Homo sapiens: one gene and its partners. The protein of the gene in region 4 purifies or fractionates together with the protein of the main gene of each other region. This does not show direct contact. Each region holds a gene or a part of one and is shown on either strand. Other genes may lie near its edges. The genes, in order: YJU2, TWF1, NMD3, CIAPIN1, AARS1, DCTPP1 and GDA.

The links.
Region 1: the proteins of CIAPIN1 (region 4) and YJU2 fractionate together in Homo sapiens (co-fractionation; one large-scale study listed by BioGRID). This does not show direct contact.
Region 2: the proteins of CIAPIN1 (region 4) and TWF1 fractionate together in Homo sapiens (co-fractionation; one large-scale study listed by BioGRID). This does not show direct contact.
Region 3: the proteins of CIAPIN1 (region 4) and NMD3 fractionate together in Homo sapiens (co-fractionation; one large-scale study listed by BioGRID). This does not show direct contact.
Region 5: the proteins of CIAPIN1 (region 4) and AARS1 fractionate together in Homo sapiens (co-fractionation; one large-scale study listed by BioGRID). This does not show direct contact.
Region 6: the proteins of CIAPIN1 (region 4) and DCTPP1 fractionate together in Homo sapiens (co-fractionation; one large-scale study listed by BioGRID). This does not show direct contact.
Region 7: the proteins of CIAPIN1 (region 4) and GDA fractionate together in Homo sapiens (co-fractionation; one large-scale study listed by BioGRID). This does not show direct contact.

The regions. Positions count from the first base shown.
Region 1 is NC_000019.10:4,263,715-4,267,450, forward strand, and holds part of YJU2 (splicing factor YJU2), read left to right. Parts: intron 1-3,736.
Region 2 is NC_000012.12:43,796,267-43,800,748, reverse strand, and holds part of TWF1 (twinfilin-1), read left to right. Parts: intron 1-218; coding exon 219-314; intron 315-1,246; coding exon 1,247-1,351; intron 1,352-2,163; coding exon of another isoform or gene 2,164-2,184; intron 2,185-2,915; coding exon 2,916-3,041; intron 3,042-3,296; coding exon 3,297-3,447; intron 3,448-3,651; coding exon 3,652-3,773; intron 3,774-4,482. UniProt on the Homo sapiens protein: Actin-binding protein involved in motile and morphological processes. Inhibits actin polymerization, likely by sequestering G-actin. By capping the barbed ends of filaments, it also regulates motility.
Region 3 is NC_000003.12:161,241,811-161,246,292, reverse strand, and holds part of NMD3 (60S ribosomal export protein NMD3), read right to left. Parts: intron 3,786-4,482; coding exon 3,640-3,785; intron 1-3,639. UniProt on the Homo sapiens protein: Acts as an adapter for the XPO1/CRM1-mediated export of the 60S ribosomal subunit.
Region 4 is NC_000016.10:57,433,450-57,437,931, reverse strand, and holds part of CIAPIN1 (anamorsin), read left to right. Parts: intron 1-1,199; coding exon 1,200-1,276; intron 1,277-3,719; coding exon 3,720-3,888; intron 3,889-4,482. UniProt on the Homo sapiens protein: Component of the cytosolic iron-sulfur (Fe-S) protein assembly (CIA) machinery required for the maturation of extramitochondrial Fe-S proteins.
Region 5 is NC_000016.10:70,282,309-70,286,790, reverse strand, and holds part of AARS1 (alanine--tRNA ligase, cytoplasmic), read left to right. Parts: intron 1-4,006; 5' UTR 4,007-4,027; coding exon 4,028-4,171; intron 4,172-4,482. UniProt on the Homo sapiens protein: Catalyzes the attachment of alanine to tRNA(Ala) in a two-step reaction: alanine is first activated by ATP to form Ala-AMP and then transferred to the acceptor end of tRNA(Ala). Also edits incorrectly charged tRNA(Ala) via its editing domain.
Region 6 is NC_000016.10:30,426,930-30,432,137, forward strand, and holds the start of DCTPP1 (dCTP pyrophosphatase 1), read right to left. Parts: upstream 3,102-5,208; 5' UTR 3,052-3,101; coding exon 2,951-3,051; exon of another isoform or gene 2,926-2,950; intron 2,872-2,925; exon of another isoform or gene 2,660-2,871; intron 2,239-2,659; coding exon 2,128-2,238; intron 1-2,127. UniProt on the Homo sapiens protein: Hydrolyzes deoxynucleoside triphosphates (dNTPs) to the corresponding nucleoside monophosphates. Has a strong preference for dCTP and its analogs including 5-iodo-dCTP and 5-methyl-dCTP for which it may even have a higher efficiency.
Region 7 is NC_000009.12:72,151,703-72,156,184, forward strand, and holds part of GDA (guanine deaminase), read left to right. Parts: intron 1-4,482. UniProt on the Homo sapiens protein: Catalyzes the hydrolytic deamination of guanine, producing xanthine and ammonia.

The DNA of each region.
Region 1 (3,736 bases), on a different chromosome or scaffold from region 4:
CAGGAGAATCACTTGAACCTGGGAGGCAGAGGTTGCAGTGAGCTGAGATTGTGCCATTGCCCTCCAGCCTGGGCAACAGAGTGAGACTCTATCTCAAAAAAAAAAAAAAAAAAAAGGAGGAAGGAGTTTTGGTGGATGACCAGCATTTTCCACCACAGCTGACTCATCCAAGGTGGCCTCAGCCACTCTGGTTTGTTCATTGAAGAAGGTGGTAAAAGTAGGGGCTCATAAACCAATAACACAGACACACAGAAACGATTGTTCTCGGCCGGGCGCGGTGGCTCACACCTGTAATCCCAGCACTTTGGGAGGCCAAGGCGGGTGGATCACGAGGTCAGGAGATCGAGATCATCCTATCTAACACGGTGAAACCCCATCTCTGCTAAAAATACAAAAAATTAGCCGGGCGTGGTGGCGGGCGCCTGTAGTCCCAGCTACTCAGGAGGCTGAGACAGGAGAATGGCGTGAACCCAGGAGGTGGAGCTTGCAGTGAGCCGAGATTGTGCCACTGCACTCCAGCCTGGGCGACAGAGCGAGACTCTGTCTCAAAAAAAAAAAAAAAAAAAAAAAAAGAAACGATTGTTCTTTCTTCCTTTTTTGTTTGTTTGTTTGACACAGGGTCTTACTCTGTTGCCCAGGCTGGAGTGCAGTAATGCAGTCCCAGCTCACTGCAGCCTGAACCTCCTAGGCTCAAGCAATCCTCCCACCTCAGTCTCCTGAGCAGCTGGGACCACAGGCACGCACCACCACGCCTGGCTAATTTTTCTTTTCTTTCTTTCTTTTTTTTTTTTTAGACAGTTTCACTCTTGTTGCCCAGGCTGGAGTGCAGTGGTGTGATCTTGGCTCACTGCAACCTTCGCCCCCCGGGTTCAAGCGATTCTACTGCCTCAGCCTCCCAAGTAGCTGGGATTACAGGCGCCTGCCACCATGCCCGGCTAATTTTTGTATTTTTAGTAGAGATGGCGTTTCACCATGTTGGCCAGGCTGATCTAGAACTCCTGACCTCAGGTGATTCACCTGACTCGGCCGCCCAAAGTGCTGGGATTACAGGCGTGAGCCACTGTGCCTGGCCCCTAATTTTTCAAATTCTTTTTGCAGAGATGCGGTCTTGCTGTGTTGCCCAGGCTGGTCTCACGCACCTGGCCTCAAGCAGTTCTCCCGCCAAGGCACAGGGATTACAGACATCAGCCACCATGTCTGGCCCCAAGACATTTTTCTAAAAGACATTTTCTTTGAAGCTGTGTCCTCTGATTAGAGTTCTCACACTGTGGTTCTCACATAAACCACTCCCAGAATTCATTGTCTACAACTTCCTCTCTTCTTTTCTTTTTTTTTTGAATGAATCAACAGAGTAAAGGTACTTTGAAAGCAGTCCAACCTTTTTTGATTTACTCCCTCAGTCTTGTGCCTCTACCTGATTTGATAGCAGGTGTTTTATTTGGTTTTAACGTGATTCACCTTCATCAAGACTTTTCAAACCTTCACCCTAACTTTTATAGGAAGGAATATCTCCACACTTGCGTTTTCTTGGTTTATTTTATTTTTATTTTAGAGATGAGGTCTTGCTCTGTCACCCAGGCTGGAGTGCAGTGACGCGATCACAGCTCGCTGCAGCCTCCAACTCCTGGGCTCAAATGATCCTCCCACCTCAGCCTCTCAAGTAGCTGGGACCCACAAGTGTGTAGTGTGTGCCACCACAGCCAGCTAATTTTTAATTTTCTTTTCTTTTTTTTTTTTTAGAGGCGAGTCTGTATGTTGTCTAGGCTGGTCTCAAACTCCTATCCTCAAGCAGTCCTCCCGCCTTGGCCTCCCAATCCTTAGTTTAGTTTAATGATGATGAGTACCACCTGTAGAAACAGGTTTGGGAACTAACCTAGGTAACTTTTTTTTTTTTGAGACGGTCTTGTTCTTTCGCCCAGGCTGGAGTGCAGTGGCACGGTCTCGGCTCACTGCAACCTCCGGCTCCCAGCCTGTAGCAATTGTCCTGCCTTAGCCTCCTGAGTAGCTGGGATTACAGGCGTGTGCTACCACACCTGGCTAGGTTTTGTATTTTCTTTTTATTAATAAAGAGACGGGGTTTCACCATGTTGACCAGGCTGGTCTCGAACTCTTGACCTCAAGTGGTCCACCCGCCTCGGCCTCCCAAAGTGTTGGGATTACAGGTGTGTGCCTCTGTGCCTGGCCATCTGTGCCTTTTGACTTCTTTTCCTCATTTTGACATCAGCCCAGAGCTACGACATTTTTTTTTTTTTTTTTCGAGACGGCGTCTCGCCCTGTCACCCAGGCTGGAGTGCAGTGGCACGATCTCGGCTCACTGCAACCTCTGCCTCCCAGGTTCAAGCGATTCTCCTGCCTCAGTCTCCCGAGTAGCTGGGATTACAGGCGTGTGCCACCAAGCCTGGCTAATTTCTTGTATTTATAGTAGAGACGGGCTTTCACCGTGTTAGCCAGGATGGTCTCTATCTGACCTCGTGATCCACCTGCCTTGGCCTCCCAAAGTGCCGGGATTAGAAGCATGAGCCACTGCGCCCGGCCCAGAGCCACAACTTTAAGGAGGCCTCTCCACCACCTTAGCAGTGGCCGCCCCTCACACCGTCAGCTTGGCACTCAAGGTCTCTGCCCATTCTCCATCCCACCTAGCCTGCCCTGGCACTTCCTGAATCACACTGTGGCTTCTCATCACGCCTTTACCCATGCCATTCCCCTTACCTGGGATGCCCCCTTTGCCAAGCACTCGCTTGGTGAACTCCTACTCGCCCTTCAATACCCAATGCAAGACGCCCTTCCTCTGAGAAGCTCATCCTCACAATTCAAGCTCACGCACCCTGGCTTCTCTCTCACCCAGATGGATGTTATCCTGGGTATTGGTCTCCTTGTCCCTCTCCCTCCCCACACGGTGAGCTCCGTGAGGGCAGAGCACCCATTGGGACTTCCTTAACCCAGTGGTTACCACTTCCTCTATTTAAACATAAAACAGATTGAAGAGGCTAGATGCAGTGGCTCACGCCTGTCATCCCAGCTCTTTGGGACGCTGAGACGGGAGGATCGCTTGAGCCAGGAGTTTGAGACCAGCCTGGGCAACATAGCGAGATCCCGTCTCTACAAAAATTAAAAATGTTAGCCTGCCATGGTGGCGTGCACCTGCAGGAGGCTGAGGCAGGAGAATCGCTTGAGCCCAGGAGTTCGAGGCTGCAGTGAGCTATGATTGCACCACTGCACTCCAGCCTGGGCAATAGAGTGAGACCTTCCCCCCAAAAAAATTTTTTTAATAATATAGATTAAAGGGTCCCTTCTGTTGCAGTTAAGGAGCTGGAGGCCTTTTCTACCTGCCCCTAACTCTTTCTCAAGGCGGCTTCCTCCATTTTCACTCGTTCTCTCAAGTACATTGAGCACCTCCTTGTGCCAGGAACTGTTTGTGGCACCGCAGAGCCAGCAGTGGGGAAGACAGGAGCTCACGGCAGAGTTGGGGAGAGAGTTATAACAGCCAGCAGAGGGCACTGTGAGCGTGGACATGCAGCCTGCATGTGAGCTTGAACCATGATGGGCTTCTCAGAGGAGGGGTGTCTTGTGTTGGGTATTGAAGGGTGAGTAGGAGTTCACCAAGCGAGTGCATGGAAAAGGGGGCATCCCTGGTGAAGGGAATAGCATGGGTAAAGGCGTGGAGATGAGAAGCCATGGTGTGACTCAGGAAGTGCCAGACCAGGCTATGTGGGATGGAGAATGGGCAGAGGCCTTG
Region 2 (4,482 bases), on a different chromosome or scaffold from region 4:
ATTGTAAATTGAAGTCCATCTTACTAACCATTGATAGTTTAGATGCCCATGTTAATGACGGTTATTTGTACACACGTATTTTAGCATATTATAGTGGGTGGACTTCAGCTCAGTTTTGTTTTTAATGTGATTCAGGATATTAATATATTCAGAATGTGCTTGCTTTTGTAATGTTATGTTTTCATCTATAAACTAAGTAAACTTTCACAACTGAATAGGTTCGTCAAAAAATGTTGTATGCAGCAACAAGAGCAACTCTGAAGAAGGAATTTGGAGGTGGCCACATTAAAGATGAAGTATTTGGAACAGTAAAGGTATTATGTTTGTATGTGGATTCTATATGTTGCAATTAAAATGATTAAAGAGGAACTCCTAGGTAATGGGTAATTGATACGAATTCAGATGGATAATCTGAAAACATGAGAATAAGAGAAATACTGTATTTCATATAATATTAAAGTTAGCTGTAATGAATATGTAACTTTGAGTTTATTCATTTGTATCTATTTGACATTGACAAGTGATATTGAAACATACTGATTCTTCTAAAGTATATGGTAAATATATGTATTTACACATATATACACAAATTGAAACACTGAAATATATTTTTGAACTTTTTTGTTTGTTTAGAGCTTTTCTGATTCAGAAAGTCATATAATCTAGTGGATAGAGCACAAGACTAGATGGGAATATATTGCTTCTTCACCATTAATTGTGAAGTGGGCTGGTTTCTTAATTTCATGAGTCTCAGTCTTCTAAACCACAAAATTTTGATGATAGGTAGACCTCTTTGTAGTATTTTTTTCTTTTGACATGAAAACTATAATAATTTTCCATGAATAATTACAAAGAAATTATATTAAGCATTATAACATAGTATTCAGAATCTGAATATGTTGATTATTGGATAATCATTGGGCAGTTTTCTCCAGAAGGTTAATTACAGTTGTCCTATAGACTTACAGGATGACCAGGTTCAGTATTTCACTTTGCCAGTATGAAACTCATACAAAATATTTAGTAATTATAAAGCTTCATATAAAATGAACAGTGGGTACTCCCCTTAAAAAGTTTTGAAACTTAAAATTGAGGATTAAAGAAAAGTAAAAAGATATTAAAATTCATAATGCTATTTATTTTCATTTAAAATCTTTTCTGTTAATGATTTTGTTTTTCCTAAAGTAACTTCACTGTCATTTTACTTCTAGAGAATTACTGATTATAGTCTATTCTGTACTTACAGGAAGATGTATCATTACATGGATATAAAAAATACTTGCTGTCACAATCTTCCCCTGCCCCACTGACTGCAGCTGAGGAAGAACTACGACAGATTAAAATCAATGAGGTAAGTTACAACTACAAAGTCTTTGCAAGATTTTAAGTGTTTGAAAATACTGTATTTTTAATTAATAGATGTGGGAGGATAACTAGAGATTAAAGAAGTTAGGTAGCTTAGGTTTATTCCGTTTAGTTTAGAGATAAGGCTATGTGCTTAATGCCTTTTCAGAAAAAAAAAGTTAAAATGAATATTAAACTTTATATGCATTTTATAAATAGCTTTTCCTATAATCTTCATGTCAGAATAGTAAATCTTCCTTTTGAAGTACAACTGTTGTGAACTTTGTACTTTGAATATTATATAGAGAAAAAGTGTGTGTTACCCATTTAGTGCAAAGAATGTATCTAATAAGGTTGCCTGAAGCAGATTATTGTTTTGTTGGCTTTCTAGAGAGTCTACAAATTAACTTCTATGAACTCTACTTGAATAGAGATATATATGGAAGATTATTATTTGAGTACCTGTTGAGCATATTAGAGTCAATAAATTTCAGCCATATTATTTTGTAGTTTATCATTATTTTTAATGTGTTTTCTACAGCCATTCTAACATACTGGAATAACTACTGTATTTCTACTGGGACTTTACAGAAAAGAACAAGTGGCTGAAACCACTATTCATTAGCTGAAACCACTGTTCATTAGCCTGAGTCACAGACAGTAGGAATCAGTCTGGAGAATGGTTGAATATCATTTAATATTAAACTGGTAGCAAGGATCTATCATATTATTTTAATTCATATTATTTGAGTAGGGCTTTTTATGTGATTTTTTTTTTTTTTTACGAGTTTGATAGTTTGTTTTATTTCTTGCAATCAGAGCCCAGAGGATCATATTGGGGTATGCATTCGCATATGTTCTATGATGTTTTCATTAACCAATATCATTTATGCTGTAGAATCTCCATTCATTTTTTTAAAAGTAAAATTTCTATTGGACTTTCTGTTGCAACACTGCGAATGAGACTCTCTACTAGCTATCATTTATCAAGTATAAAAATCTTAAACATGTGCATTGAATGCTTTCTTATCTTTCTCCTCTTCCAGTACATGCACACCATGTTCTTAGTAAAGAAATCTCTTAAGTCTGGAACTTCTGCAGTAGTATAACTTGTTGAGCTGTGTTGTCTTTGTACACTGTTTGTACTCCTTTCAATTCAGTGCATGATGTTTGTGTTGCATTTTCTGTCCAACAGAACAAAGTAAAGTTCTATACATATTGTATGTAGATTGTTGTTTATAAATTCTATCAAGTAAAATTTTACAATCAGTGGTGTAATCTGATGACACTCTAAAGAAATTGTGCCAAACCAAACATAAAAACAAACCCACCCAAACCCCACTAACTGTACACTCATTCAAATGTTCACTTCCAACATTGTCGTAAAGATGTGTCATGCACTCTGCATGTTGACAAAATGCTAGCAGGACCGTAAACAAATGTGAAAAATAATTTTAATTATAGGTTGGGCTAGGGTTGAATGATACTATTTTATAGAGGTTGGGTTTTCTTATGTTTGCCATAGGATACTGCTAACTGCTAAACTTGTAAATTAAATCTGTCATACTTAGGTACAGACTGACGTGGGTGTGGACACTAAGCATCAAACACTACAAGGAGTAGCATTTCCCATTTCTCGAGAAGCCTTTCAGGCTTTGGAAAAATTGAATAATAGACAGCTCAACTATGTGCAGTTGGTAAGAGATGTATAATGATTATTAAGTGGCTGCTCTTTTTGGTAGTTTATGACTCATATAGGGTTTATTATTAATGGATTTTACATTTTAAATAGCTTTCTGATTTCTAAAATTCATTTTGTAAATGTTCATTGTGAAAAAGTCAAACCATCCAGAACTAAGTTCCTCCTTTATCTCTTGGTCTTTTTATTATATGTTTTAACTTAATTTCCTTATATCTGGTTTTAATGAACATATTTTGTTTCTTATTGGCAGGAAATAGATATAAAAAATGAAATTATAATTTTGGCCAACACAACAAATACAGAACTGAAAGATTTGCCAAAGAGGATTCCCAAGGATTCAGCTCGTTACCATTTCTTTCTGTATAAACATTCCCATGAAGGAGACTATTTAGAGTCCATAGGTATATGATACATTGTTTTTAACACATTACTTTCAGTTTGTTTATTGGTGTATCAGCCCTATATTCTTACTTATTTCTTGCCCAGAGGGCTTAGCTGTAGTTTTATGAAGTTTCTGTACTTGTTTTTATGAAGTTTATATATGTAGTTTTATGAAGTTTATGTATTGATATGCTAATTATATTTGTTATTATTTGAACTTACAGTTTTTATTTATTCAATGCCTGGATACACATGCAGTATAAGAGAGCGGATGCTGTATTCTAGCTGCAAGAGCCGTCTGCTAGAAATTGTAGAAAGACAACTACAAATGGATGTAATTAGAAAGGTAGCCCACCTATTTTAAAATCTTCAGTTTTTGCTAAATTTTTCTTTTCATTTCTATGTAGTTTATGATGTACTGTGATTTATAAATGAAAATATTTATTTTTCTTGTTATCATCCTAAATCCTTAGGATCTCCTCTAAGTGCCTGGGAACTACCTGTCATGATCCCCATCTCTATATATATCTGTACTTCCTAGTAAGCCACATGTGGCTATTTAACTTTAAATAAGATTTAAAGTTCTGTTTCTTAATTCCACTAGCCTTATGTCAAATTCTCATTAGCTAAATGTGGCTACTGGCTACCGTATTGGTTAGTGCAGAATTTATAGGACATTTCCATCAGTGCAAAAAGTCCTATTGGACAGCGCTGCCAGAGCTGCATACTTGTGATTATTTCTACTGCATATTAATAAGGAATTACAGTCTCCATTATGACTGAATTATGGGATGGTTGGGAGTCTTTCCAGTTTGGGGGAAGGAAGGAATAAGCATAAACATTTGAATTTTGGGAACTAAGCTACCAATTTTCTTAAATTTTCTTAAGTACAGATAAGGCATGGGGAAAGATATATATTCTTGAGCCCTTAAACTCATAAAAATACAGGTCCTTAAAAACTACCAGTGTTTTTAGGTTCTGAACCCTTCATGCTTTTTAAGTTCCTAAGAATCAATCACTTTATCATGGGTAGCACCTTCTATAGCAGGGATCAG
Region 3 (4,482 bases), on a different chromosome or scaffold from region 4:
CTCTAAAAGCATCTCAGAGAAAAGTTAAATACAATATTGATTTTTGGTTTTCTAATTTTTAAAGACAGAAAATTTTTTGTATTTTTCTGATGTATGAAACACTGTCAAAATTAACAAATTACTGAATCATGAGTATAGAAAGACTCACAAACAATTCATAAAAATAAATCATTGACTTTTTCTAAGATTTTATTCAAGACTTTTATAAAACATTAATAATGTCCCTAAAAATATATATATGTAGAATTTTCAAAAGAAATGTTTTCACAGGAAGATGGGCCAACATAGGCAGAGTGAACAAAATAACTGAAAAGGTAGGGGAATCTTAAAGCAAGAACGTATTCCAAGCAAACTCTTGCTTGACACAAGGGTTCAGAAAATCAGGGTCCAGACAAAACAGCCTAGAAATCCTGGTAGTAAACCACTAGAGAGGCCAAATCTTTATCAAATTAATTTTTAAAGTATCTACTAGTGTAGACTACAATCATTCTCTACATCTGCTATATATAATATAGTACATCTGCTATATATAATATATATATAGCAGAAACAACATCCCAATTTTTAAACTAGAAAACTATTAATTCCCTTTCTAACATGCCAACACCTTTAACAACAAAGACAGACCAACTGAAGTGAGATCGAGAGAAAAATACTAAGAGTTATAAATAAAATTAAGGAATCTCAAAATAAAGTTATGAAAAGAATCAAGTGTTTCTTATTGCAGTTGGTCAAAGAAAAAGAAATGAAAAAAATGAAAAGAAATAGAGCAGAAGGAGAAACTGAAATAAAAGACAAGTCTCAAACTTAAGAACTGCAAAAGAAAAGTCAATTAACAGGGAGACTACATTTTATTTAACAGGATTTACTTTCTAGCTATTAGACTTCTGCTTGTAAGAAATTTATTAACCTCTTCTAGCTATTTTTTAAAAACCAAGAAAATACAGTATCTGGTTTTATATCTGCCTGAAGGGAAATGATACTCTACATTTATTATAAATGAAAAGTTTGCCCTAAGTACATTACCTTAATTTATAAATAAAATGTAGAATGTCATCTGTCTTCCATTTCCATTAATTTTTCCCAAATTATCACAAGTTATTTTTGTCTCAAGAAGCATTATTAGCACGCACACACACACACACACACAAGGGTACCCTGGGAGTCTCTAGATACTATTTCACAGTAAAAGAAGCCAGACTTTCATCTTTGAAGAAACATTTGATTTCAGATATGGGTTATAAACTATACATGTGATTCTGGAACACCTGAATGCTGTGTTGCACCAGAAATCAAGGATGCTTTCAAAGACCAGGAGAGTCACGTCAAAACAACATAGGAACCATTCTGAAGGGGCTCCCATTGAATAAATTTAGGGCAATATGAGGATTTCAAAAAAAAGAAAGGGCAGGCGCTCATGCTCATTCCTATAAGGGAGGCAGTAGGATCGTTTGAGACAAGCCTGAAAAAACAGTGAGATTGACTCTACAAAAAATTAAAAAATAGAAATGAGACAGGTGTGGCAGCATGCTGAGGTGGTAAGATCACTGGAGCACACAACCTCAAGGTTCCAGTGACCTATGATCATACCATTGAACTCCAGCTCTGAGAGACAGAGTGAGACCTTGTCTCTTTAAAAAAAAAAAAAAAAAAGGAAAAGAAATGAAGGGAGAGGAGGAGAGAAGAAGAAAACAAAAGAAAATACAGTAAATGATACAATACTTATACTTCAGGAGATCACAATGATAATCACAAAGAGAGACACCACCTGTACATGTAAGCTAATTTTCACCACTGGAAATGATTCCTAGATCAACTCTTTACTCTAAAAATATTTGCTAAAAGAATTAATAATTTATGCATAGGCCAGGGGAGGTGGCTCACGCCTGTAATCCCAACACTTTGGGAGGCCAAGGCAGGAGGATTGCTTGAGCTCAGGAGTTCAAGACCAGCCTGAGTAACATGGAGACCCCATCTCTACAAAGAAATTAAAAAATTAGCTGGGCATGGTGGCACATACTTGTGGTCCCAGCTACTCAGGAGGCTGAGGCAGGAGGATCATTTGAGCCCAGGAGTTTGAGGCTGCAGTGAGCTATGAAGCCATACCGCACTCCAGCCCAAACAACACGGCAAGATCATGTCTAAAATTAATTAATTAAAAGAATGTATGCAGGCGAGCATTTCAGGAAAGCTACATAACCCCTAGTTAATAATGAAAAGCTCTTCTTTAAGAATGACAGCTAGTAAATGTAGAATAGAAATAGAAAATTCACCATTTTGTAACCCTGAATAAAATAATTAATTTATGGGCAAGAATTATCAACAGATGCTAAAGCCAGAAAAAAAAAGAGGTAACAGGAACTCAGTACTTGCATATTATTATAGTATTAAGCCACAGATTGCTTGCTGGTCAGAAGGAAAAAAAATCATAACATTACAATGGAGGAATCTGACTATCACTATGTTAACAAGTGAAACAGTCAGACATTACTTGTCTCTTGATATAATAAAAAGTACATGGCATCATCTCTGAAATATTCTGGCAAGAAAAATTTAACCTAAATGTAACCAAACCTTTAGATCAACTTTCCAGTTTAGAGGAAACACAATGAATTAAGAAGCTAGTTAAATGGCATCATGAGGAAACAATTAGATAGATTTAGAAGGTGGAGTATTCTACAAGATAAATGCACTAGTTGTCTAAGGAAGTTGGTATCATAACCAATAAAAGAAAAAAGAAGGGGACTATTATTAAATAAAAGACTAAAAAGGTATAATATTCCCATTTAATGAGTGGTCTCCAATTGAATACCTGTTTGAACAAGGCATAAAAGACACTTTTGGGACAAATGAGGAAATCTGAACACAGTAATCCCCCCCTTATCCATAGTTTCCCTTTCAAAGTTTTCATCTGCCCACAGTTAATCGCTATCCAAAAACAGGTTGGTGGAGTAGAATTAGATAACTTTAAGAAAGAGACTACATTCACACAACTTTTATTACAGTATATTATTATAATTGGTCTATTTTATTATTAATTATTGTTAATCTCTTACTGTGCCTAATTTATAAATTAAACTCTATCATAGGTATGTATGTATAGGAAAAAACAATACACATAGAGTTTGGTACTATTGTGGGTTGTTTCAAAAATCCACTGGGGGTCTTGGAATGTATCCCCATGGATAAGAGCAGAATACTGTGTAGACTGTATGTTTTATAGGTATGGTAACAACATTTTCATTATGTAGAAAAATATTCCTGTGTGTGAGAGATGCACACTGAAGTATTTAGTATTTGGTGATGACTTTTTAAAAGTCAAGATAACCACTACAAAAATAAAGGTCCTCCTCTATAAAAATAAAGCAAAGAAATGCCTTTTTTAAATATAATGGAATAAACATTTAAAAGATTTTTCCTACACAAAAGAGAATAAATTAACTTAACAGTCTAAGTCTAACAATTTCCACAATGACCACATATTAAAAAGACAAAAAAAAAAAGAATTTTTTTCCTAATGTGGTGCTAAGTTTGGATTCCATACTGTGGAAACACCAACAAATTTTTTTTAAAAGAGGGACTGAAACAATAATAACTGAGGGGAAAAAAAAATACACTGGCAGGCAGGATGTAGCTTACCTTTTTTGATATCATTCCAGCACCTGCAGCACGTTTTATATCTTGGACTATGCTGCATTCCATCACAATAAACTCCTCTAGCTGTTTGGGATGACATAAACTATTGAAAGGGTGACTCCAGAAAGTGCTCCCATCAATATCTGCCACTAAAAATAAGGATAGAACACAAAAACATAAGAAAAATTATATATTTCAATTATCAAATGTATTAACTAAGAATAAACTGGTAGATACCAACTGGGAAGTGGCAGGTCAACAGAACTAGTGTCAACTCACTCCTTAGGGTCATCAATTACTCCTATAAACCAATCCCAAACTTCTCAAAGCACAAGAAAAATATATCAGATGTCAAACATATCTTAAATAGTTACTATAACCAGAATGCCACAGGGCTAAGTGCCTCTTAAGTAAGATCAGAGCCAATCAGTGGTACAGCTGTTTCACGTGCTGGCACTTTATTTTAGAAACGTATCTGTCACCTTAGCTGCTTAGTTTATGGGAAATAAAGCCTAGTTCTACCAGATAGGTAAAGAATGTCCATCCCAATATTGCTAACAGATCTTTAACTTATGAATCCTAACTGATAAAGATAATGAATGACTTTGAAAAATATCAAAATAAACTCACTTTTTGTATAAAGGAAACTTATATTACAGAAAATACATGAAAAAGATCAAGCAGAAGATACATCCAAATACTAAGATACCTACCAAAATGTGGTCTTCCTTAAAAAATAATTTATTCTATAGACAATGTTAAAAAATGATCTACAGTAATAACAAAATTGGTTAAAATTCATATTCAAACTAAATGTTCCAATGGGCCACAAAAAGCCAAATGTTC
Region 4 (4,482 bases):
GAGAGTGATAAAAAAACAATAATAATGGAATTATAACATTTAAGAGCTTAGGTAAAAACACTTCGAACAACAAAAAGGATTTGTCAAATTAAAATAGTATCGCTATGGCCAGGCACAGTGGCTCACACCTGTAATCCCGGCAGTTTGAGAGGCTGGGGCAGGCAGGTTGCTTGAGTCCAGGAGTTCGAGACCAGCCTGGGCAACATGGCGAAACCCCGTCTCTACAAAAAATACAAAAATTAGCCCAGTGTGGTAGTGCACACCTATAACCCCAGCTACTTGGTGGGGGCTGAGGCAGGAAGATTGCTTGAACCTGGGAGGTCGAGGCTGCAATGAGCTGAGATCATGCCACCGCACTCCAGCCTGGGTGACAAAGTGAGACCCTGTCTCAAAAATAATAATAATAATAATAATAATAAAATAATATCACTAAAATATATATACAATTGTCCTCATCTTACAATGGAGTTACATCCTGATAAATACTATTAAGATGAAAATGCATGTAATTCATCTAACCTACTAAACACAATTGCTTAGGTTAGCCTAGCCTACCTTAAACACGCTTAGGACACTTGCGTTAGCCTACAGTTGGGCAGAATCATCTAACACAAAGCCTGTTTATAATAAAGTGCTTAGTATCTCATGTAATTTACTGAAAACTGAAGTATACAGTTTCTACTGAATGAGTATTACTTTCATACTATCATAAAAGTTGAAAAATTATAGGTAGAACCATCATTAAGTCAAGGACCATCTGTACATTAAACAGAATAGGTTATTATTTTTTTTTTGTTTTTTCTTTGAGATCAAGTCTCACTCTGTTGTGCAGGCAAGAGTGCAGTGGTGCAATCTCGGCTCACTGCAACCTCCGCCTCCCAGGTTCAAGCGATTCTCGTGCCTTAGCTTCCCAAGTAGGTGGGATTACAGGCGTGTGCCACCACGCCTGGCTATTTTTTTTGTGTGTATTTTTAGTAGAGACGGGATTTTGCTATGTTGGCCCCAGATTGGTCTTGAACTCCTGGCCCCAAGTGATCTGTCCACCTCAGCCTCCCAAAGTGCTGGGATTACAGACATGAGCCACCACGCCCACCTGGTTATTATTGTTTGAATGCCTGCGAACCCATATAGGATTGAGCCTTTATTATTTTTCCTACTTTGAACTATAAAGCTATTAATTGGGATTTTCCTTTTGGCAGATAACAATAGCAAAGTGAAGACAGCATCTAAGCTGTGTTCAGCCCTGACTCTTTCTGGTCTTGTGGAAGTGAAAGAGGTACGTTTGTAGACAACTTTCTTTGCTGCCCTGCAGGTGAGGTAATCAGTATTGCTTAGAACTAGGAAACAAGAAATGCTGTGCATGTAAGATACATGATGCTTCAAAGGACAAAACTTGGGAGAATCGGCCGGGTGTGGTGGCTCACGTCTGTAATCCCAGCACTTTGGGAGGCCGAGGTGGGTGGATCACGAGCTCAGGAGATCGAGACCATCCTGGCTAACACAGTGAAACCCCGTCTCTACTAAAAATACAAAAAAATTAGTCGGGCCTGGTGGCAGACGCCTGTAGTCCCAGCCACTCAGGAGGCTGAGGCAGGAGAATGGCGTCAACCTGAGAGGCGGAGCTTGCAGTGAGCCGAGATCACGCCACTGCCCTCCAGCCTGGGCGACAGAGCGAGACTCTGTCTCAAAAAAAACAAAACAAAACAAAAAAAAACTTTTGAGAATAACCAACTTCAAAGAGACTCAGCTTGGCCCATGTGGGCTGGGGCTTGTTCTTGTCTCCTTGGTACTAGTTTAGTGGTGGTGACAGCTGAGGGGCATGAGCAGCAGCTCTGCTGCTTCCAACACCCACCTCTCAGTAGACCCGAATCCTAGGCCTGGGTGAACACTGCCATCTAGTTCAGCCTCACATTTTTGGTGGGAGGCTGGAATAGGTTAGAGGGCAAAGTTCCTTTTCTGACAATTCAGTGGAAATGTTTAAATTAAGCAGAAGTATTTATATTTCTACACTCTTTGATCTTAAAATTTTCTTGGATGTGGGAGAGGTAAATGTTACAGCATGATAGCTGTTGTGCCTGTTATTTCTTACATAATGTAGGGCCTTAAATTCTTTGTTTTTTAATTTTTTTTCTTGTTTTTGGAGACAGTCTCGCTCTGTTGCCCAGGCTGGAGTGCAGTGACACGATCTCTGCTTACTGCATCATCCGCCTCCTGGGTTCAAGCAATTCTCCTGCCTGAGCCTCCCGAGTAGCTGGGATTACAGGCGTGCGCCACCACACCTGGCTAATTTTTTGTATTTTTAGTACAGATGGGGTTTCGCTATGTTGGCCAGGCCGTTCTCTAACTCCTGACCTCAGGTGATCTACCCACCTTGGCCTTCCAAAGTGCTGGTATTACAGGCGTGAGCCAGGCCTTAGATTCTTTATGCCAGGCCTTAGATTCTTTATGCCAACCCTTTCTTATTTTTCCTTTTAGCTTAAGGTTTTCTGTGCTTGATTTTAAAATAAGGAATGTGTATTAGGCCATTCTTCTGTTCCTATAAAGGAATACCTAAGACTGAATAATTTATAAAGACAAGAGGTTTAATTGGCTCACTGTTCTGCAGACTGTACAGGAAGCACGGGCCTGCAACTGCTTGGCTTCTAGGGAGGCCTCAATGAACTTTTACTCGTGGCAGAAGGTGAAGCAGGAGCAGGCACATCACATGGCAAAAGCAGGATCAAGAAAGAGAGGAAGAGTCGGGGTGGGGAAGGTGCCATACTTTACAACCACCACATCTCATGAGAATTCAGATGGTGCTAAACCATTCATGAGAAATCTGCCCCCATGATCCAGTCACCTCTCACCAGGCCCCACCTCCAACATTGGGGATTACAGTTCAACATGAGATTTAGAGGGGACACATATCCAAACTATATCAGACTCCTCATAAAAATTCACTTTACACCAAAGCATACAGAATATAAAGTGACATCCCACTTCTTGCTCACACTTCCCTCCCCAGAGGAAGCCACCAATGCCTTTTTGTATGTCCGTTCAGACCTTTTCCTATGTATTTACAAGCATCTACATGCACATACTTTTTTAAAAATGTAAATAAGATCATAAGTATACATTGTTCAATCACCTTTTTTCCCACCCTTAGATATCATAGACACTTACCTACTTCAGTGTATTTCCCTTCATTCATATTAATGATGTAATAGTATTCCATACAATAGATGGACTGTGATTTATGTAACCAGTCTATAATTATTGGACATAGAGGTGGCACCCTGACCCTTTTTTTCTACCTTTACTCTCTGCTACTTTATCCCAAGGAACATAGAAAGGATTTTCCTCCCCCTTTTTCTTTTGGGATATAAATTTCTGCTGTCTTCATTGTGGGCATTCTTTCCTGTTACACAGTAGGACCACATCTGGTTCATTTTCATAATTGTATTACATCCCAAATAACTAGTATATGCCTCATCCCTAATGTTTTTTAAGTACTTTTACATTTTCCAAGGGGTAGGCTCCAAGTAAACATGCAGACAAAGGTTATACTCTAGGGTTCTGATCAGTGAGAAACTGAATGTGAGGCATAAAGTGTTATCTGTTACCATCCACTGTTACATCCTTAATGCACAGAAATGAGTCTTTGACTCCTGTGTAGGTAGACATAGTAAACCATTTTACAGAGGAGGGTGAACTAATCCTTTTGATGTCTTGAATTCTAGCTGCAGCGGGAGCCCCTAACCCCTGAGGAAGTACAGTCTGTTCGAGAACACCTTGGTCATGAAAGTGACAACCTGCTGTTTGTTCAGATCACAGGCAAAAAACCAAACTTTGAAGTGGGTTCTTCTAGGCAGCTTAAGCTTTCCATCACCAAGAAGTCTTCTCCTTCAGGTAAGGCTGGCCTAGGGACATTCTTCTGTTTGAATGGGCTTAGAGGGACATGTTAGAAATTGAGCCAGCAATAAATGAGATGGTGATATTTTTAGAGGATTAGTCCTTTGATTTCTGCCATTTCCACAAAGAAGAATACTTAATGTACTATTATCATGGGCATATTAGGATCCAAAACTGAAATAATACATAGGTATTATCTAGTTCAGCTCCTTCTTCTGCACCAGAAGATACCGAGGCCTCCTAATTTTACAGGACTGAGTCACACAGTTTAATTAATGAGGTCCTTCCAGGTCCCAGAATTAACGTTTCTCCTCAGAAGACCTCACAGTGTAGTGGTAATGGTGTATGAGAGTGCCCTGTTCCTGTTCTCATGTGCTTTTTTCCCCATGCCAGGAAAATCAGCTGTTCTTACTTTGAGGATGCTAAGACACTTATAAAACTATATTTCTTCTGACTAGAAAATTGTGTACAAGCACACGCGTGCACGCACGCGCACGCACACACACACACACACACAGCTCCATCCTCATCCTTCCTATCCCTATTTTTAAATGCCTGAATTGACCCAGCTGTGAGGTATGCAGACATTAA
Region 5 (4,482 bases), about 13 Mb from region 4:
TCATTGCAACCTCTGCCTCCCAGGTTCAAGCGATTCTCCTGCCTCAGCCTCCCAAGTAGCTGGGATTATAGGTGCGTGCCACCACACCCCGCTAATTTTTTGTTGTGTTGTATTTTTAGTAGAGACAGGGTTTCACCGTGTTAGCCAGGATGGTCTTGATCTCCTGACCTTGTGATCCACCCGCCTCGACCTCCCAAAGTACTGGGATTATAGGCGTGAGCCACCCTACCCGGCCTCAAAAATTTTTTTTAAATACAAAAAAATTAGTCGGGTTTGGTGGCACATGCCTGTAGTCCTAGCTACTCCGGAGGCTGAGGTGGGAGGAACACCTGAGCCTGGAAGGCCAAGTGATTGCACCATTGCCTGCGCTCCAGCCTGGGTGACAGAGAGGGAGACCCTGTCTCAAAAAAAAAAAAAAAAAAAAAAAATTCCTGTGGAGTGGCTGGAGCCACAGCGTGATTTAAGGCACCCAAGACCTTTACAGCTCCTGTTAGTAAGTGAAACCTGAGGTTCTGCCTTTGTGCTACCTCTGTATCCCATATAGCCCTCCAGTGAATAAATCAATGAGTTTATGTTGAATAAATATATTGAATTTATATCGAATAAATATAAATTTAGATTGAATAAATAAATGGGGGTAAACAAATGAATGTGGGGATACAGCTTTTAATAGTTTCAGCCTTCATAGACTCATAGTTAATATATTCAGTCCTTTTACACAATACTGCAGTTAATTCTGCATATGATAGTCTCCTCAGGAAGGACATAGGCTGTCATTCATTTTGATTCTTGGCACATAGTATGCATTCATTATGGTGAATTAGTAAGCAAAAATGGGAAATTCATGTGTCTTTTGGAAAGTAGCTGGAGTCAGGATCTCCTGTTCACTTTGTACATCTCTATTGTATTTTCCTCATAAGGAGAAAACTTTGGCTGGGCATGGTGGCTCATGCCATCCCAACACCTTGGGAGATTGAGGCCAGGAGTTCGAGACCAGCGTGGGCAGCATGGCAATACTCCATTTATAACAAAAACAGAAATTAGCTGGGCGCGGTGGCTCATGCCTGTAATCCTAGCACTTTGGGAGGCTGAGGCTGGCAGATCACCTGAGGTCAGGAGTTCGAGACCAGGCTGAGGAACATGGTGAAACCCTGTCTCTATTAAAAATACAAACATTAGCTGGGTGTGGTGGCACTTACCTGTAATCCAGGTTACCCAGGAGGCTGAGGCAGGAGAATTGCAGGAACTTGGGAGGTGGAAGCTGCAGTGAGCTGAGATTGCGCCACAGCGCTCCAGCCTGGGCGACAGAGTGAGACTCTGTCTCAAAAAAGAAAAAAAAAGAAATTAACTGGGCATGCTGGTGTGCAACTGTAGTCCCAGTTACTTGGGAGGCTGAGGCAGGAGGATTACTTGAGCCTCGGAGTTTAAGGCTGCTTAAGTGATTGTCCCACTGCACTCCAGTCTGGACAGAACCAGAAAAAAAGAAGAAAACTTTCAGCTAAACAACTTAAAAGTAATATTATCCATTCTGTTCCTTCAAGGTTTTCCTTTTTTTTTTTTTTTAGACGGAGTCTCCCTCAGCCACCCAGGCTGGAGTGCAGTGGCGCAATTTCGGCTTACTGCAACCACTATTTCCCAGGTTCAAGCGATTCTCCCATCTCAGCCTTCTGAGTAGCTGGGATTACAGGCACTCGCCATCATTCCCGGCTAATTTTTGTATTTTAGTAGAGATGGGGTTTCACCATATTGGCCAGGCTGGTCTTCAACTCCTGACCTCAGGTGATCCACCCACCTTGGCCTCCCAAAGTGCTGGGATTACAGGTGTGAGCCACCGCACGTGGCGTAACGTTTTCCATTTTATAGATTGCTTCCAAATACAGTATAGCTTTTGATCCTCACAACACCTCAGTTGAGTAGGCAGGGTAGATACTGCTTTTTTACAGAAAAGGAACTGAACTCAGGCAAAAGTGAATTAAGGTTACGGTTGGGTCTGGAATTCCAGAGACTTTTTGATAATAATGATAATATTGTGAATAAGATGGTTCTCATTTTTCTAGACACAGCAGTTTGTGGCACTACAGCACCATGCCAGTGATCAGCACTCTCACCAAAGCCTGTCACTTCTCCCCAGCCTACCTCTCAGGGAAATCGTAATATCTGTGAAAGAGCTGTTTTTGTTTTTGTTTGTTTGTTGACACAAGGTCTCTGTCGCCCAGGCTGGAGTGCAGTGGCATGATCTTGGCTCACTGCAAGCTCCGCCTCCTGGGTTCACGCCATTCTCCTGCCTCAGCTTTCCGAGTAACTGGGACTACAGGCGCCTGCCACCATGCCCGGATTATTTTTTGTATTTTTAGTAGAGACGGGGTTTCACCATGTTAGCCAAGATAGTCTTGATCTCCTGACCTCGTGATCCGCCTGCCTCGGCCTCTCAAAGTGCTGGGATTACAGGCGTGAGCCACCGCGCCCGGCCATTTTTGTTTTTTTTGAGACGGAGTCTTGCTCTGTCACCCAGGCTGGAGTGCAGTGGCGCGATCTCGGCTGACTGCAACCTCCACCTCCTGGGTTCGTGCCATTCTCCTGCCTCAGCCTTGTGAGTAGCTGGGACTACAGGCGCCTGCCACCACGCCCGGCTAATTTTTTGTATTTTTTTTCTAGTAGAGACAGAGTTTCACCATGTTAGCCAGGATGTTCTGGATCTCCTGACCTCGTGATCCACCCACCTGGCTAATTTTTTTACTATTTGTACTGACAAGATCTTGCTATGTTGCCCAGGGTGGTCTCAAACTCCAGGGCTCAAGCAATTCTGCCACCTCGGTCTCCCAAAGTGCTGGGATTACAGGCGTGAGCCACCGCGCCCAACTTGTGAAAGAGCTTTGAAGTCATAAAGTTTTTTCTCTCTCCACCAGTTCCCTTGTACTTTCACTTTCAGTAAGCTGTGCCTCCAAAGTGGGGCTACAGCATCCCCACTCCCTGGTAATCTAATGGCTGGAAGGCAGCCGTTTGCTGTTAGGGTTCTTGGGGGATGTAGGCTACATAGAGGTAGGTACATTCCTGCTACATACAGGTGGTCCCTTGTACAGATAGGCCCATCCCCAGGACTATTGCTGCTGACAGCCGCCTCACCATGACATCAGGCCAAACCTAGAGACCCTGACTTTGGGGCTAGTGGAACTTTGCAGTTCTAGGCGTGTACATTAACACAGAGCTGAAGGGATCTTTAGAGATAATCTCATATGGACCCCTCCTTTTTTTGGTGAAGTGACTCCCTCAGGACTTGAAGCTAGAACTCAAACCCCGGTCTCCTGAGCCTCTCTCCCTCTTCCCCAGTTGGACTAAACTGAGGGTTTTTCTCCCCCTTTTTTTCTTTTTTTTTTTCCTTCTTTTTTTGTTTTTTTGAGACGGAGTCTCTCTCTGTCGCCAGGCTGGAGTGCAGTGGTGTGGTCTTGGCTCACTGCAACCTCCACCTCCTGGGTTCAAGCGATTCTCCTGCCTCAGTCTCGCAAGTAGCTGGGATTACAGGCACGCACCACCATGCCCAGTTACTTTTTGTATTTTTAGTAGAGATGGGATTTCACCATGTTGGCCAGGCTGGTCTTGAACTCCTGACCTTGTGATCTGCCCACCTTGCCCTCCCAAAGTGTTGGGATTACAGGCGTGAGCCATCGTGCCTGGCTGTCCCTCTTTTTTTCTAATTCCTAGTCTCGGGCCTGACACAGAGCAGATGCTCGATACATATTTGTTTAATGAACAAACATCCAGCAGCAGTGTGCTTGGTGTGCTGGGGTGTTGAACCTCTTGAGGTTGGCATGGGAAGGAAGAACAGATGGGGCTGCTGTCTGCTGGTGATGATGATTTTAGCCTTGGACATTACAACATAGAGGTTTTAGGATCAAACAGCTCACCTGAGTCGTGCTTTGACTTGGCTTGAGAAGCCAGAAGTCTTGTGTAATGTGTACTTTGACTTTCAATTCCCTTAATTTTCCTTCATTTTTTTTTCTTTGATTAGTTCTTTGGGGTGACTTTCAAGATGGACTCTACTCTAACAGCAAGTGAAATCCGGCAGCGATTTATAGATTTCTTCAAGAGGAACGAGCATACGTATGTTCACTCGTCTGCCACCATCCCATTGGATGACCCCACTTTGCTCTTTGCCAATGCAGGCATGAACCAGGTAAGGGTTTTTCCTTTTTTCTTGGCTTTTGGTTCACATAAGAGGCAGCAGAGCCCAGATAAAAGCACAGCCCTGGGGTCAGACCGATTCTGGTTCTGTCACTCCCTGTGTGATCTTGTGAAACTTTATGTGATGGGCCTCAGTTTCTTTGCAAAATGAGGAATAATATTGCGGGCCTGTAGGTATTAGTGAGAAGCGAATAAGATAACACATACAAAATGTTTAGCACGGTATTTCGCACATAGTACGTAGGTACTCAAACATTAGCTTTTTTTTTTTTTTTTTTTTCCTGAGACGGAGTCTCGCTCTGT
Region 6 (5,208 bases), about 27 Mb from region 4:
ACCTCAGGTGATCTGCCTGCCTCGGCCTCCCAAAGTGCTGGGATTACAGGTGTGAGCCACCGCACCTGGACCTTTTTCGTTGGGTTTTTTTTTTTTTTGAGACGGAGCCTTGCTCTGTCGCCCAGGCTAGAGTGCAGTGGCGCGATCTCGGCTCACTGCAAGCTCCGCCTCCTGGGTTCACGCCATTCTCCTGCCTCAGCCTCCTGCGTAGCTGGGACTACAGGCGCCCGCCACCACGCCCGGCTAATTTTTTTGTATTTTTAGTAGAGACGGGGTTTCACCGTGTTAGCCAGGATGGTCTTGATCTCCTAACCTCATGATCTGCCCGTCTCAGCCTCCCAAAGTGCTGGGATTACAGGTGTGAGCCACCCCGCCCAGCCCCTTTTTTGTTTTTTTTTTTTAAGGCAGAGTCTTGCTCTGTCGCCCAGGCTGGAGTGCCATGGTGTGATCTTGGCTAACTGCAGTCTCTGCCTCCTGGGTTCAAGCGATTCTTGTGCCTCAGCCTCCTGAGTAGCTGGGATTACAGGCGCCCGCCACCATGCCTGGCTAATTTTTGTATTTTTAGTAGAGACAGGGTTTCACCATGTTGGCCAGACTGGGTCATCACCTTGTGTTCTTTTCCTCATAGAACTTGTCATAATTCCAGATCTTCTAATATGAGATTACTGATTTACTGTCAATCTCCTTCCACTGTGAAGGTGGAAACCTTTCTGCCTTGTTCCAGGCCATATCTCAATTCTAGAAGACCTAGCACATAGGTGATGTTCATAAATCTGTCATGAGGCCATGTGCAGTGGTTCAACCTGTAACCCCAGTGCTGCGGGATGGTGAGGCAAGTGAATCACTTGAGACCAGGAGTTTGAGACCAGCCTGGGCAACAACAGCGAGAGATCCCATCTCTACAAAAAGTAAAAATAAATTAGCCAGGCTTGGTGGTGGCGCACGCCTGTAGACCCAGCTACTCCGAAGGCTGAGGTGGGAGGATCGTTTGAGCTCCTGAGGCTTCAGTGAGCTATGATCACACCAGTACACTCCAGCCTCAGCAACAGAGTGAGACCTTTTCTCTTAAAAAAATGACTGTCCTGGTCTAGGGCTCATCGCCTCTTGCCTGGTCTACACCAGCCAACTCTCTGGTGTCCCCTGCCCCATTCTCTCAGTGATCCATCCAATCCACCCTGTAGACACAGTGACCTTTCCAACACTCATATCTGGTCAGGTCTTCTGTCCAAACTCTCCATCATACTCTAGCCCTAATCATATCTTTGTGGGTTCAACTCCCACCCCTCTCCTCCACAGCCCTATCACTCATCCAACGTGTGCCTATTGAGCGCCTACTATGCGCTGGGCACTTGGGACACATCAGAGAAAACAGATCCCAAATCCCTGATTTTTCCTGAGATGCTTACAATGAAGGAGCGTCAGATTCTCCCTGAATTGAACTTGCCCTTTCTTGCCTCACTGCCCCTGCAAATGTAGTTCCCATGTCTGGAATGCCACAGGCAGGTCCTCTACAGAATACCTTCCTTTCAGCCCCAGAGGCAGAGGAAAAGGGTTGTTGGGCCAGGCGTGGTGGCTCACCCCTGTAATCCCAGCACTTTGGGAGGCCAAGGCGGGTGGATCACCTGAGGTCAGGAATTTGAGACTAGCCTGACCAATATGGTGAAACCCCGTCTCCACTAAAAATACAAAAATTAGCCAGGCGTGGTGGGGGGCACCTGTAGTCCCAGCTACTCGGGGGGCTGAGACAGAACTGCTTAAACCCAGGAGGCGGATGTTGCAGTGAGCCGAAATTGAGCCACTGCACTCCAGCCTGGGCGACAGAGCGAGACCCCGTCTCAAAAAAAAGCCAAAAAAACAAAAAACAAAAGAAGGGAAAAGGGTTGTTGCCACTGCTTCTTCCTAGACGGGACCTGTCCTGATGCTTTCACACCTCACACCTCTCTCTTCCAGGAGGCTGAGTGCCCCTAGAGGGCAGGGACCCGTGAGTCCTCTCTGCATCCCAACAACAGCAAAGAGCCTAGCAATCAGGAGGGGAAACTGAACCCATGAATGTTTGAAGACCAAATAAATGCTCCCCTCCCCTCCCCCACAACTCAGACTCTACCAGGAAGCTTTCCATCTACTCACAAGAGTTCTGCCAGCTCCCCCACTTCCCCAACCAAGGCCAGGAGGAGATTCCGAGGCTGATGGAACTGTTCCCAGTCTCGTTCCGCAGCAAACTCAGCATGGAGGCGGCGGCTGAAATAGGACAAAGGAGTGTAAGTCCAAGTCTCCGGGTTAGAGGGTGATGCAGGGGCCAGAGGCAGCTACCCCCGTAGTATGTAATGGGGCCTGGGACCAGGAGATTCTGCAACTAATTCATTGGATGGTATTGTGCAGGTCATTTCCTCTTTCCGGAACTTGGTTCCCTCATCTATAAAATGGGCGTGCCCCTGAACTGCCCTTAACATCTCGCCAAAACTAACAAAACCCTCTTCATTATTCCATCTCCTGCTGCTACTTCTGCAGTTTCCTCCACCTGGAATCGCCGCACATCAAAATGCAATTTCTCTTACAGAAGGTAGTTCCACAGACCCTTCCTCTAAGAAGCCTTTCTTGACCTCCTCCAGCAAAAAATAACGTCTCCCACCTCTCAGCACTTCGTTTGCCCCTCTCGTACCCCCGGCGCCTGGAGAGCAGAGGCGGTATCTGGTGCCGGTATCTTCCCAGGGCTAGGCTGAAGGGCGTTCCTAGTTACCACTCGGAGGCACCACCCAATTTCCCTTGCCTCAGGTGTGCACCGCTGCGCCCATTTTGCAGATGAGGTAAGAAGGCTCACCCAGGGACAGCCCACAGAGCCAGGACCCGAGCCCCGCTGCCAGCCCGCTTCCCGACCACGTGGAGGAACCCTCCCCAAAACGCGGGAGAAAGGGGCGACTTCCCCACCCCGAGCTGGGCCAGGCCTGCTTACATGTCCTCGAGCGTGGGCTCCGGGCTGAAGCTGAACCGGCCGGGAGCAGCAGTGTCCTCTCCCCCCGTGTCCCCACGAATCTCCCCACCGGCCACAGACATGCCGCCCACCGCTGCACCGCGACTTCACGGAAAACCCACGAGCCACGCTCGAAGCCCCGCCTCCAGAGCTCCGACCAATTACGGGAGTTCTCTATTGCCTCACGGGGCGGAGCCTGAGGAAAGAGACCAATGACTTTTGTGGAGTTTGCTACAGCCCTCCCCTTCCCTCACTGGACCAATCTGAGGGAGCTTCAAGCGCGCGTTTCTAGTCTTAGGCCCTGGAATTCTTCCGCTAGGCCCTGTGTCTAAAGGTAGAGGTACCAATTCGACCTGGGGAAGAGACGAAGGGCAGAGGGTGGGGGAAGCGCAGGCGCGTCACTTCGTTTATGGGCGCCAGAGGGCGCCAAAGCGAAACGGCAGCGGAAGAGGGCCCGTCAGGTGGAAAACCCTATAAATGAAAGGCCCTATGCATAGGTATTAAATCAGGGCTTAAGGACGTTGAGAAACCTCGAGGCCAACCCCCACACTATTTGGATGGGATTGAAGGGGAAGAGCGGAGTAAGATCAGACGGCAGTAGGACTTCAGCTCCCCGCCATCGCTGTGTCCTGTGGTTGAAACGATGGAGGTCGCCCCATCCCTGTCCTAAGGGAGGCAGTAGGCCCCAGCGCAACGTACATTGCCCTGAAACACGTGGCCCCTTATGGTCTGGCCTGTGCCGGCCTCTCCAGCCTCATGGGTCCCCAGCACGGCTCCTCCACCCCACACACGAGAACTCCAGGCTCCACTCACACCAGGGAATACGCGAGGTGGCGAGTCACAGGGTTGCTGCTTTCAAATCAGAACCACTGAGTTATTGGCCATGGGAGGAGCAGAGATCTTTATGAAACCCTAGAACAGGTGTAGTCTTGCAAAGAATGATTTATTATTGTACCCTTATTAGGGCTACTATCTCTGATTTCCACGTTTAAAGAGGCTTCCAGCTTGCTGGAAGTGAAAGCGTAAGAAAGCGCAGGAAGAGGCAGAGTCAGATTTTGGAAATTAAAATCCCAAGGCTGTGACAATTGCAATTCTAGGTATATGCCCTAGAGAAATTAATGAATATGTGCAGAGAGACACATGCAAGAAGTTCATTACAGTTTTGTTTCTAAGAGTGAAAAAAATTGAAAATAAAATGACTATCAACGGAAGAATGGCTACATGGAAGTATATTTATACAAATGATATTATCCAGCAGTTAAGATTGGATACATGCAACAGAAACAAGTTTAAACTGCTTTTAGCAAGAAAAAGAAATCTATTATTTTTATTTTTTAAATTTTTTATAGAGACAGGGTTTCACCATGTTGCCTAAGCTGGTCTTGAACCAGGATTGCTGGATTGGGCTCTAGCAATCCTCCTGCCTTGGCCTCCCGAAGTGCTGGGATTACAGGCACGAGCCACCCCCACCGGCCACAAGGAATTTATTGTAAGGATACAAGAGTGTCTCCAGAATACAGTGGGACCTCAGGAATGAACTGGAACTGGGGTGGCTGTTTTAAGCATTTTACATATTTAATCCTCATAGCAACTAATTTAATCCTCACAAAAACCCTATATGGTAGGTAATATTGTTGTCATCCCCATTTTAAAGATAAGGAAACTGAGGCCGGGCGCGGTGGCTCACGCCTGTAATGCCAGCACTTTGGGAGGCCGAGGCGGGCGGATCACGAGGTCAGGAGATCGAGACCATCCTGGCTAACACGGTGAAACCCCGTCTGTACTAAAAATACAAAAAATTAGCTGGGTGTGGTGGCGGGCACCTGTAGTCCCAGCTACTCAGGAGGCTGAGGCAGGAGAATGGTGTGAACCTGGGAGGTGGAGCTTGCAGTGAGCCGAGATCGCGCCACTGTGCTTCAGCCTGGGCGAAAGAGCGAGACTCCGTCTCAAAAAAAAAAAAAAAAAAAAAAAAAAAAAGATAAGGAAACTGAGAGGTTAAATAACTTAACAGCTAGTAAAGTGGTAGAGCTGGCGTCAAATCCAGGCAGTTTGGCTTCACAGTCTGTTATTAGACCCTATGATGTATTGCCTGAAATGGCGATAAATATGAAAAAAATAAATGTAACTGTATTTTAAATACTATGAAAGGCTGGGCGTAGTGGCTCATGCTTGTAATCCTAGCACTTTGGGAGGCGGAGGTGGGCAGATCACTTGAGATCAGGAGTTTGAGACCAGCCTGG
Region 7 (4,482 bases), on a different chromosome or scaffold from region 4:
GTTCATGCCATTCTCCTGCCTCAGCCTCCCGAGTAGCTGGGACTACAGGCGCCACCACGCCCCACTGATTTTTTTGTATTTTAAGTAGAGTTGGGGTTTCAATGTGTTAACAGGATGGTCTTGATCTCCTGACCTCGTGATCCCCCTGCCTCGGCCTCCCAAAGTGCTGGGATTACAGGCGTGAGCCACCGCGCCGGCCAATGATCTGTAAATTTTTACTCCTAAATTTTTAGGAGCTCAAACCTTGCAATGAATCAGAAATATCTAGGGGTGCTTGATAATATGCTGATTTCTGGGCATCATCCTCAGAGACTCTGAATCTATAGACCTGGGGTAGGCCCCAGAAAGTGGCATTCCAACAAGCATCCCAGGAGATTCAGACGCAGGTAGCGGGTGGATTATAGCAGCGGGTGGATTACATTTTGAATAACTGTAACACATAGTTTCTGTGATGGGACAAGCTGTGTGAAGTATCAGGAGCTTATTTCTCCATTGCAAGTTTAGATCTGGGGTAGAATCTCAGCGAGAGGGCACAAAGCTTACTCTGTCCTTCTGGTCTCGCTTTTAAACTTTATTCCTTATTTTGTATAACTTCGTTTAGGCCCAGAGAATGCCAATGACTAACTGCTCTTAATACATTAAATTAAAGCTCATTCAAAAGCAGGTTAATTAAAAGAAATTATCTAGCCAACTTTTTGGTATAAAGCAAAATACAGAGTTATACTTTCTGCTCAAGTAGCATGTAGCTTTTAAGAATATAGACTCTAATGATTGCCATTCTAACTGGTGTGAGCTGATATCTCATTGTGGTTTTGATTTGCATTTCTCTGATGGCCAGTGATGATGAGCATTTTTTCATGTGTCTTTTGGCTACATAAATGTCTTCTTTTGAGAAGTGTCTGTTCATATCCTTTGCCCACTTTTTGATGGGGTTGTTTGTTTTTTTCTTGTAAATTTGTTTGAGTTCATTGTGGATTCTTGATATTAGCCCTTTGTCAGATGAGTAGGTTGTGAAAATTTTCTCCCATTTTGTAGGTTGCCTGTTCACTCTGATGGTAGTTTCTTTTGCTGTGCAGAAGCTCTTTAGTTTAATTAGATCCCATTTGTCAATTTTGGCTTTTGTTGCCATGGCTTTTGGTGTTTTAGACATGAAGTCCTTGCCCATGCCTATGTCCTGAATGGTAATGCCTAGGTTTTCTTCTAGGGTTTTTATGGTTTTAGGTCTAACGTTTAAGTCTTTAATCCATCTTGAATTAATTTTTGCATAAGGTGTAAGGAAGGGATCCAGTTTCAGCTTTCTACATATGGCTAGCCAGTTTTCCTAGCACCATTTATTAAATAGGGAATCCTTTCCCCATTGCTTGTTTTTCTCAGGTTTGTCAAAGATCAGATAGTTGTAGATAGGCGGCATTATTTCTGAGGGCTCTGTTCTGTTCCATTGATGTATATCTCTGTTTTGGTACCAGTACCATGCTGTTTTGGTTACTGTAGCCTTGTAGTATAGTTTGAAGTCAGGTAGCGTGATGCCTCCAGCTTTGTTCTTTTGGCTTAGGATTGACTTGGTGATGCGGGCTCTTTTTTGGTTCCATATGAACTTTAAAGTAGTTTTTTCCAATTCTGTGAAGAAAGTCATTGGTAGCTTGATGGGGAGAAATAGGAATACTTTTACACTGTTGGTGGGACTGTAAACTAGTTCAACCATTGTGGAAGTCAGTGTGGCGATTCCTCAGGGATCTAGAACTAGAAATACCATTTGACCCAGCCATCCCATTACTGGGTATATACCCAAAGGACTATAAATCATGCTGCTATAAAGACACATGCACACGTATGTTTATTGTGGCACTATTCACAATAGCAAAGACTTGGAACCAACCCAAATGTCCATCAATGATAGACTGGATTAAGAAAATGTGGCACATATACACCATGGAATACTATGCAGCCATAAAAAATGATGAGTTCATGTCCTTTGTAGGGACATGGATGAAATTGGAAACTGTCGCAAGGACAAAAAACCAAACACTGCATGTTCTCACTCATAGATGGAAATTGAACAATGAGAACACATGGACACAGGAAGGGGAACATCATACTCTGGGGACTGTTGTGGGGTGGGGGGAGGGGGGAGGGATAGCATTAGGAGATATACCTAATGCTAAATGACGAGTTAATGGGTGCAGCACACCAGCATGGCACATGTATACATATGTAACTAACCTGCACATTGTGCACATGTACCCTAAAACTTAAAGTATAATAAAAAAAAAATATAGACTCTAACATGTTTAATTCATTTGCAAATATTTAATCTTGAGGTAATGCATGCTCAAATATTACTAAGTTGCCTGATTCTTCCCACATACATCAGGGTCAGGTTGACAGTAAAGATGCATAAACATGCCTTGGGCCTTTTAATGCACACTTACCCAGAAACAAGAGTGAGGAAGAGATTCATTTTGAGGTTGTGTCCTGGGGTGGCAGGAGCAAGTCCAATGGAGGAATAGAGACTTGGGTTCAGGTCAGAGTCTCTACCACTTACCTGTGCTGAGACCACAGGTGAGACCTAACCTGCCTGAGCCTCCGTTTCCTCATTTGTAGAGTCAGATTTCCTTTTGCTATTTATTAAATGAGATAATGTATGAAAATGCCTGGCACTTAGTGGATACTTAACATGTACCATGTTCATTCTATTCCCTTTGCCTCCTAGCAAATCCTTAACCTCTTGCTCACTGTGATATTTTGCATGTTTTCACATGGTGACATGCCAAGTGGTAGAGAAGGAAGCCACGGCCTGTGATGAACTGTATGGGGTGGTCACAGAACCTTAGCTTTTTATTCTCACTGCTTATGTCATTGATCCCCTGGGACCCAAAGATGCACCCTGGAAGAAAGATCAAGAAGCATTTGGTGCTAGATTCACTAGCAAGCTATCTTTAGTATCTCTTTTAGACTTGACAATGTCATTATTTCCACTAACAGATGAGGAAGTTGAGACTTGAGAAGTCATGCATTCAGATACGGTGGTGGTGTAGCTGGATTTTGAATTAGTATGGGGCAAAGGCCATGTTCTCTTTACTGTCGCTGACTGCTTCTCTAGGGCACAGTCCTGGACCTCAAAGAATCTGCACTTTGGCACGGGAGCTAAGACTTGTAGCTGTAATAAAAGTGACTCATTCCTGAGCCAAACACTGGGGTTTTCACCGGAGATAAATTGATGAACAAAGTATGCAAATACTGCCCTGCCCTCTTGAAACTGATGATCTAGTAATAAATTAACAGAATCTGCCATGACCTATCAGAACTTGAACTAGTTAGGGGAAGGCTTTCCCTAGCGTGAAGTGACATCAAACTTGCGATGTGAACAATGAGAAGTTAAGTAGGTATATTAGTCAATTTTCACATTGGTGACAAAAACAACCTGAGACTGGGAAGAAAAAGAGGTTTAATTGGACTTACAGTTCCACATGACTGGGGAGCCTCAGAATCATGGCAGGAGGTGAAAGACACTTCTTACATGGCGGCAGCAAGAGAGAATGAGGAAGATGAAAAAGCGGAAACTCCTGATAAACCCATCAGATCTCGTGAGACTTATTCACTACCATGAGAACAGTATGGGGGAAACTGCCCCCATGATTCAAGTTATCGCCCACTGGGTTCCTCCCACAACATGTGGGAATTAGGGGAGTACAATTCAAGATGAGATTTGGATGGAGGCACATCCAAACCATACCAATAGGTAAGGTGGACAGCATTGGAAGTAAAGAAGAGCCTTCTAGGTTGAGAGAACTGCCTGTGACTGCCTGTGCAAAGGTCCTGGGGTAGGAAGGAATGAAACAGTCAAGGTAGTCAGAGTCCAAAGGTTGAGGAGAAGGCTAACACAGGATAAGGCAGGACAGGTAGGCAGGGCTATGTTATGGAGGGCATCGGGGATGGTGGGATTGTGTCATGATTATATTTTGTGGTTATAAAGGTCTAACTTCAGGATAAATGCATTGAAGAGAAGTTGAGTGCAGGCAAGGAGGTCAGATAGGAGCCTGTTGCAGTATTTAGGTAAAATGGAATGTGGTTTAGATGAGAGAGGCAGTGTAGTTATCAACTGAGATATGAACTCCTAAGAGTACCTCTATCACTTATTACCTATGTGAATTTGATCAAGTTCCTTACCATTTGTATCTCCAAATTTCTTTATGCATAAAATAATTACTATGGTCTACCTAATAGGGTTGTTGAAAGGATAAAATGGATTAGTAAGTGTAAAATATATAGAATAATGCCTGGCATGTAGTACATGTCCATTAGACTTCAGCGGTTATTGTCAGTAATGCAGATGGAGAGGTGGATAGAATCAGTAGCTATTTAGATCAAGTTGACTGGATTTGATGATAGCTTACATATGTAAGGTTGGAAGGTAAGTGCATCAAGAGTGATCGCAAAATGTATGTAAATGTGTGTAAATAGTACAGTGGGGCACAAGTTGAC